Linked DNA regions of Homo sapiens. The protein of the gene in region 1 purifies or fractionates together with the protein of each later gene. This does not show direct contact. Each region holds a gene or a part of one and is shown in the gene's direction. Other genes may lie near its edges.

The links.
Region 2: the proteins of KAT6A (region 1) and CMAS purify together in Homo sapiens (affinity purification with mass spectrometry, with the first as the bait; 2 studies listed by BioGRID). This does not show direct contact.

The regions. Positions count from the first base shown.
Region 1 is NC_000008.11:41,975,309-41,979,058, reverse strand, and holds part of KAT6A (histone acetyltransferase KAT6A), read left to right. Parts: intron 1-281; coding exon 282-417; intron 418-1,731; coding exon 1,732-2,051; intron 2,052-3,750. UniProt on the Homo sapiens protein: Histone acetyltransferase that acetylates lysine residues in histone H3 and histone H4 (in vitro). Component of the MOZ/MORF complex which has a histone H3 acetyltransferase activity. May act as a transcriptional coactivator for RUNX1 and RUNX2.
Region 2 is NC_000012.12:22,044,546-22,048,295, forward strand, and holds the start of CMAS (N-acylneuraminate cytidylyltransferase), read left to right. Parts: upstream 1-1,672; 5' UTR 1,673-1,758; coding exon 1,759-2,018; intron 2,019-3,750. UniProt on the Homo sapiens protein: Catalyzes the activation of N-acetylneuraminic acid (NeuNAc) to cytidine 5'-monophosphate N-acetylneuraminic acid (CMP-NeuNAc), a substrate required for the addition of sialic acid.

The DNA.
Region 1 (3,750 bases):
TGACCTCAGGTGATCCACCCGCCTCAGCCTCAGTGGACTTCAAGTGCAGTCAGTGGACTTCCAGTGCAGGCTTGAAGGTGTATGTGAGTCTCTTCCAATTATTTGTAGAATTTTGTGTGTATATGTTTTAATGTTTATTTTGGATTGGAGGGGGTATTCATCAGATTTTCTAATGACAGTCTTTTACCTGAAAAAGTTAAGATCCTGACTTAAGACTATCTGAAACCTTTCAGTGTATTTATGTCTGTCACACTTCTATGTGGAATTTTATTTTTTTATAGGCATGTGGATATGTCAAATATGTCGACCTAGGAAAAAAGGACGAAAACTTCTACAAAAGAAGGCAGCACAGATAAAACGGCGCTATACTAATCCAATAGGACGTCCAAAAAACAGGTTAAAGAAACAAAACACGGTGTAAGTTGTACTTGTGGCAAGGTGAGGGGAGAAAAGGATAGGGTCTTCTCTATAGTGTAGGATTCACTTGTTTTCTCTATGAAAAAAATTCCATTGTCATATCTGGCACTTTTATATAATAATAATGGCTAACACTTATTCAGCCCTTAATAAGTGCCAGACACTATTCTAAGTGCTTTATATGCATTGAATTGTTTAATTCTGCCAACAACCCAGTGAAATATAGCTGCTGCTGTTACTTTCATTTTTCAAAGGAAGAAACTAAGGCATAGTAAATGTTGAACTGGGATGAAAATCCGAGTAGTCTGGCACCAAAGTCTGACTCTTAACCATTGCTTTATGTTGCTTCTCTTATATAAAAACAGGAAAGAAAAAGTTGTTACTGTGACATTTCACATGTCACTCTCCTGATCTTGTCTCAGTTGTTAATATCTATTAGGTGTACAAATCACTGGATAGGTTCTTCCTATTGAGGTGATGGCTAAGTCCCATTTTTGTGTTCTTTGGATGTAAAATAATTTGAATGTTTTCATCTATTAGCAGAAATCAGAAATTGTGGACTAGAAAGCTGGGCTATGTCTGGAGGAGGTGGGGCAAGATTCAGTAGCTAGTTTTGTCTTTTTAAAAATGTCTGTAGTAACTCACCTTTGATGATATGTAAACGTCTTCAGGCTTGTCAACCTCCCTTTATTATCAAAAGTTTTACTTACTTTTTTTACACGTAAGACTATCTTGAAGGTGATATAACTGAAATGAATGGGCATTAGCAGCCTGAAATGTACAGAACCAATATTGTAGTCTATATTCAAAATCTTAAATCAAGCTTTGATTTTCCTATAAAATGATCTTTTGATTCCTGGCCTTCGAAGAATAACCCATCCTTGTGTTTTAGAGATAAAAGTATAACTTTCAGTTGGTGCAGAGATCACAGTGTAGTAGAACTTTATACCTGGAAGGATCTTAGTTGTTCTTAGTCCAGTTCTCATTTTACAGATGAAGGCACTGACATATGTTTAGAAAAAATGTGATTTGTCCAAGTCGTACAGCTAGTAAGAGAGAATTATGACTAGAACAAGTCTTCTGACTCCTGGCCTGTCATTCTTTGCACTATAAGTAGGCTTCCTGGCAATAGATGTTTCTAATAATAATATTAATTTTCATTCACAGAGTACTATTTATAGTTTGCAGAATATTCTTAATAATATAGATTTTAATAAAGCTGTAGGTTACTTACTAATTATATGTTATGTATTAAAAAGGAACCTTACAAGTATCTTTTTTAATACTTACCCTTTCCCCTGTTTAATTGTTTAGATCAAAAGGTCCCTTCAGCAAAGTTCGAACTGGCCCTGGAAGGGGTAGGAAACGAAAAATCACTCTTTCCAGCCAATCAGCATCATCATCATCAGAAGAAGGATATTTAGAGCGGATAGATGGCTTGGACTTCTGCAGAGATAGCAATGTCTCCTTGAAGTTCAACAAGAAAACCAAAGGGCTCATTGATGGCCTTACCAAATTTTTTACCCCTTCCCCTGATGGGCGGAAAGCTCGGGGGGAAGTGGTGGACTACTCTGAGCAATATCGAATCAGAAAGAGGGGCAACAGGAAATCAAGCACTTCAGATTGGCCCACAGGTAAGAGTTTAGAACAGACTTAGAAACAAATAGTATTCTGTACATGTATTATTCGGGATAACACTAATTATCTATAATGGATTTATATTTGATTATTAACAATTGGTTATAGAATATAAGAACACATTGAAAAAACATGTAGATGATACTGAGGTGATAACTGTGGCAGGAATTTAGAGGATGGAAATAAAGTTGCAGAATGGGACAGTAGGAACTCTTAGGCAAAAGGAAGCTGCTTTTTTGTAGAACCACAAAGAATCTGCCTAGAGAAACTTGGGGTGTAACCTTGAGGATTACTTTACATTTCACAAATTACTAAAGAAATCATATGGTGAATGTTATGATGCCTGCTTATTCCAGGAAGGAAACTGGAAAGAATAGAACTGGGTGAAATGCTGTTGATCTAAGCATAAAAAAAAGACCAAAATATTTGCAGATGTGATGAGGTCATTGACTTTTCTACTTCAGATCTTGACAAATATAGTTGTAAGTCATGGATTGCACTTAAAAAGGGAGAGACAGAACCACAGCTCCAGGCTGCTTATGTATCAGGCTAAGTTCCCTAATTTTCAAAGTAGAAAACATCTGTGGAGAGGACTTAATAATGTGGCAAATCATTCAAGTCAGAGGAGAAGAATTTGATTAACTGTCCAATAAATTAAAGCTTAAAATAGTCTTATTGCTGAGCCTTGAATTTAGAGATACTAACCCTGTGAAGGAAGTAGAAAGGGCTTGAAGAAAGTAGAATGAGAATGAACTCTTTTGGACCACAAGGGCCAGAGGTGTAGTGTCTCATCTACTACAAGAGAATTCCCTGACCTTGGTTTCCTCCCTGAATGTCTCCTTGGTGAGGGAGAGTGTATTCACTGCTCTCATTCGTGGTTGATTGTCCAGTGCAGGAGAGAAAGTCCTTGTAATTGTCAGAGTCCCCTTTGTATGCTTTATTGATTGGTCTTTTACCATAGTGATGATCAACTAATTACTCTTTAAGCATTCAAGACTCTTCATGTCTTTATCAACCTGTAGATAAGTTCCTGATCTGAGCATGTTTATCTAAGAAAATATGCAATCCGTTTAGATTAAACTAGGAAAGAATCTCAGAGCAAATCCTAATGAAAGACATTTTTGAATTAACCATTTGTACTGGAGACGGTTTATTAGAAGAATCTACTAGAAAGCTTTTGAAATAGAAATTGTTAGAGCAAGTGTATCAAGTATATGGAGAACCAATATTGAATTTTTGACAGTGGTGTGAGCGTTTGCTTTAATAGGCTCTGTCATTTTCTTTATGAATTATAAAGTTTAAGTACCGAATGCTGTATTAGAGAGGTGCATGCATCATGCACTAGGGGGCATTAAAGTCACATAGTACCTTTAGATTGTACTTTTTTCTTCCAGTTTGAGAATGTTGTCAACAGTGAGTCCTTGACTTTTTTCTTCTTGTGTTAAGTTAATAACAGATGGCCCATATGTGCAGTTGACTTGAGAACTGTCACCAATTGGTCTTTTCAGCCATACTTATAAAGAGAGCAAATGAGCCCAACAGCAGTGTCATCTTCAAATGCAAAGGATAATGATCTTCATAAGTCCCAAATACTCTCTTCACTAGTTTTTTGCCAACTTGAGGAAGTTCCATCATTTAGTAGATAATTATCATACGTTTTCATATTTACCCAGATGATTATCATCTGGGTAAATA
Region 2 (3,750 bases), on another chromosome or scaffold:
CAGCCTCCCTTATCTGTGTCTGCACGAAGCACCTTCTTCCAGCACCAGTCCCAGGAAGGGCTGGGCCCTCAGTTAATTCACAGACTAAGAGATGTAAAGTATCCAGTACCTCTCATAGGACCCAAAACATCAAAGACTTCTTCTCTCCCCTCAAAAATGGCCAAGACCTGAGAAGTACAAAATCCTTTTGCCCTCTGGGAGAAGGCAAGCCGACACACTACAATCCATTCTTTCTGTTTGTATCAGCCTCCATCTCAGAAATGTAAAAGACTCTACTTCCAAATATAGGCTTGCAAACATGCTGAAAGACAAAATGCATGCTAGGTCAGAGATGCCTGCTTTAAAGTCTCTTTTTTTTTTTTTCCTAAGAGAGGTGTGTGTGGGTGTATGTCTTTGAGCCTCTTGGCTGGATCAGGGTTTAAATGCTCAGGCGTGGCGGCTCATGCCTATAATCCCAGCACTTTGAGAGGCTGAGGCGGGCAGATCACTTGAGGTCAGGAGTTCAAGACCAGCCTGGCCAACCTGGTGAAACCCCCAACTCAACTAAAAATACAAAAATTATCTGGGTGTGGTGGTGCCCCTCTGTAATCCCAGCTACTCAGGACGCTTGAGAATGGGTGGCAGAGGGTTGCAGCGAGCCGAGATTGTGCCACTGCACTCCAGCCTTCTGGGGGACACAGTGAGAATCTGTCTCAAAAAAAAAAAAGAGTTTAAATGATGCCTCCAGAATTCTTTCTCTTTAATCCCTACATGTCATTGTTCTGCTTCCTCAGGGAGAACATCAGTCTTCCAGCCCATTTCAGAACAGCAAAGCCCCCCTGCCGCCCTACCCTACCCTTGCCCTGAGGCTTCAGGTTAACAAGGTCCTTAGCACCCAGTCAGCACGAGAAAGATCCTTTCTTTCCAAGACTCTCTGGAAAGGACTCCAGTGGGCTCTGCTTGGTCATATGCCTGTCCCTAGACCACAGGTGTGTTAAGGAAAATGGGGTGCGTAGATGGACCAGCTTGGGTCACACACAGTGCAGAGAATGTGAGGGAAACCCTCACCGGATGAGAGAGGGATCAATTCCTAAAAGGAAAAGATTTTTAGCAGACAACAAAACAAAACCAAAAAACCAAGTGTCGGCCACACTAGAGGTGACCAGTAAAGCTGACTTCCAAATTTCTGCTGCTAGGGAATGCTGATGTCGATCAAAGTGCGGAGAGCATATGAAAAATGGAGTTTTTAAAACGTTGAGTTTAAGGCGCCTGTAGGATATTTGAATGAGCTGGTCAGTAATTTCTTGGAAAAAATGACCCAGGGGCATTAAAAAAAGGTGTATGTTTAAAATGTACATTTTAAAATATAAAATGGATTCGTGTCAGGGTGCATCAAGGTATGCAACGGGAAACCCACCACAATTCTAAAGTGGGGAAGTTCTTCAGCAATTATAAATACTTTTTTTCTTTTTTAATTTTAGAAATTTACAGACACTTGCAAGCACCCCAAAAGCCGCACTTCCTCCAAATATCTCTGGACTCCCACTGCTTGACTTAGTTTTGGGGTCACCTCATCAGAGCCTACTTGGCCTACTGGCCCCAGACGAGGCGGCCGCGGACTACAATTCCCAGCGAGCACCGCGAGGGGCGGGGGAGGGGGCGGGGCGAGGGACGGCCGCGCGCGCCAGCTGCCAGGCGGGGATCGGGCGGCGCCGAGCTGAGGTGGTGAGGGACTAGCTCCCGGATGTGGAGAAGCTGGGGAGAAGGCGTGGGAGGAAGATGGACTCGGTGGAGAAGGGGGCCGCCACCTCCGTCTCCAACCCGCGGGGGCGACCGTCCCGGGGCCGGCCGCCGAAGCTGCAGCGCAACTCTCGCGGCGGCCAGGGCCGAGGTGTGGAGAAGCCCCCGCACCTGGCAGCCCTAATTCTGGCCCGGGGAGGCAGCAAAGGCATCCCCCTGAAGAACATTAAGCACCTGGCGGGGGTCCCGCTCATTGGCTGGGTCCTGCGTGCGGCCCTGGATTCAGGGGCCTTCCAGAGGTGCGCATGTGCGAGAGTGGGCGGCGCGGCCTGGGCGGGGGTCGGGAGAGGGAGTCGGGCTGCTGGAGGGGCTGGGGCCTCCGGGGCCACCGCTCTTGGAAGGGGGCCATCTCTCATGCCAGGGATGTGCAAGATCCGGGGTGCCTGGGGCCGGGCTGAGAGCCCAGGAGGAAGGGCTCCAGCTCCTTCCTTGTTCCGTAGCTGCCAATGGTCATAACCTGGGACAGTTCCTGTCTCCGCCCTTGAGAATCATCCGTAAAAGGGGAGATTACACCTCCCCAACCGTCCCCTCCTCCCGGGTTGACCTTACGGGGAAAAGTAAAGGAGGCCACCCCGGTGCAACATCTGTGATAATATGTGAACTTCTTTGGATGGGGGCCATCGAAGCTCCCCTGTTGCTCAGCCTCTGATAACTGCTTGGTGCTGCTCGATTAGGGAGGCATCAGGTTCATGAATGGAGTTGAGTGTCGGGGTGTCAGAGCTGAATTTCAAGCTCAGCTTGGAGATCTTTTCCTAACCTTTGAAAAATACTCCAGCTATCTTCCTGTGAGTCAGCACAATCTAGAAAACTCCCTACATTTATAAATACGTGAGACTCAGTGGGAAGGTGTACAACTGACTGTTTTATGATATATTAATACTTACAAATCATTTAATCATACCTTTGGAACCTCGCCTGCCCTATGGACAGTTTTAATTATGCGTAATTTAGATACATTGCCAAATTGGTCAGGAGTTACAAGCTGATGTTATTCATAAAAGAAGGGAGATCGAATTCTGTGCCAAGAATGAATTTACACATATAGCTTCAACCTAACTACATTTGAATGTGTTGTTATTGTGGAAATTAATTTATGTTAACCTTTTGATGTTTCGATTTTTAAAGAGATGACTGTTTTTGAAGTCATCTCTTTTTCTTTTTGAACCTATATTTGCTTACCCATATTAATATATGGGTAAATGATTTTCATTTAACCAGTCTTGTTCAAAAACGGGAGATGCCAAAAAAGTATAAATATACTAATTTTCTTAATGTTTCAACCCAAAAGAAGTCCTGGATGGACCAAGGCAAATAGGAGCCACCACTCAGAAGATAACACTAGTGCAATAGGAAGTGTGCGAAGGAGAGATAGGGAAGGACCTGGGGATTTTGTTCAATTCAGTAGCTATTTACTGAGCCCTAATTTCTGCTATACATGTCCAAGGGAATACCAAGATGATTGGGACACAGTTTTTGTCCTTGTGAAGCTCACAAACTTTGGGATATTTTTACATTCTTAGAAAGGGTACAAACTAAAAAGGACTGAGAGAAGTAGGTGCATCCAGACTGCAGTAATATAGTGAAATATCATTTTTGTGAAATGAACTAGAGATCAAAATCATATTCACAGTAAATGGAGAACAAAACTGTTAATACCATTTACAACTCTTAGGTTGTATATATCAGGAAACCCTGTTCAAACTGGCATAACAAAAGAGGGAAAGGCTTATTAAGGTACAGTCAGATTCAAGGACAAAAAAATGATTCATTCATTCAGCATACTTACTGCCTACCTACTATGTAACAGGCACTGTTGTATGTACCGAACCACGTGTAGTAGCAGTAGAGACAGCCCTTAGTCTCATAGAGCTTACGTTATAATAAGGAAAGACATGCAGTATACAAGAACATTAATGTGTGTTGTATCACGTTATGATAAATATTTTTAAGAAAAAGTAAAGCAGGATAAGA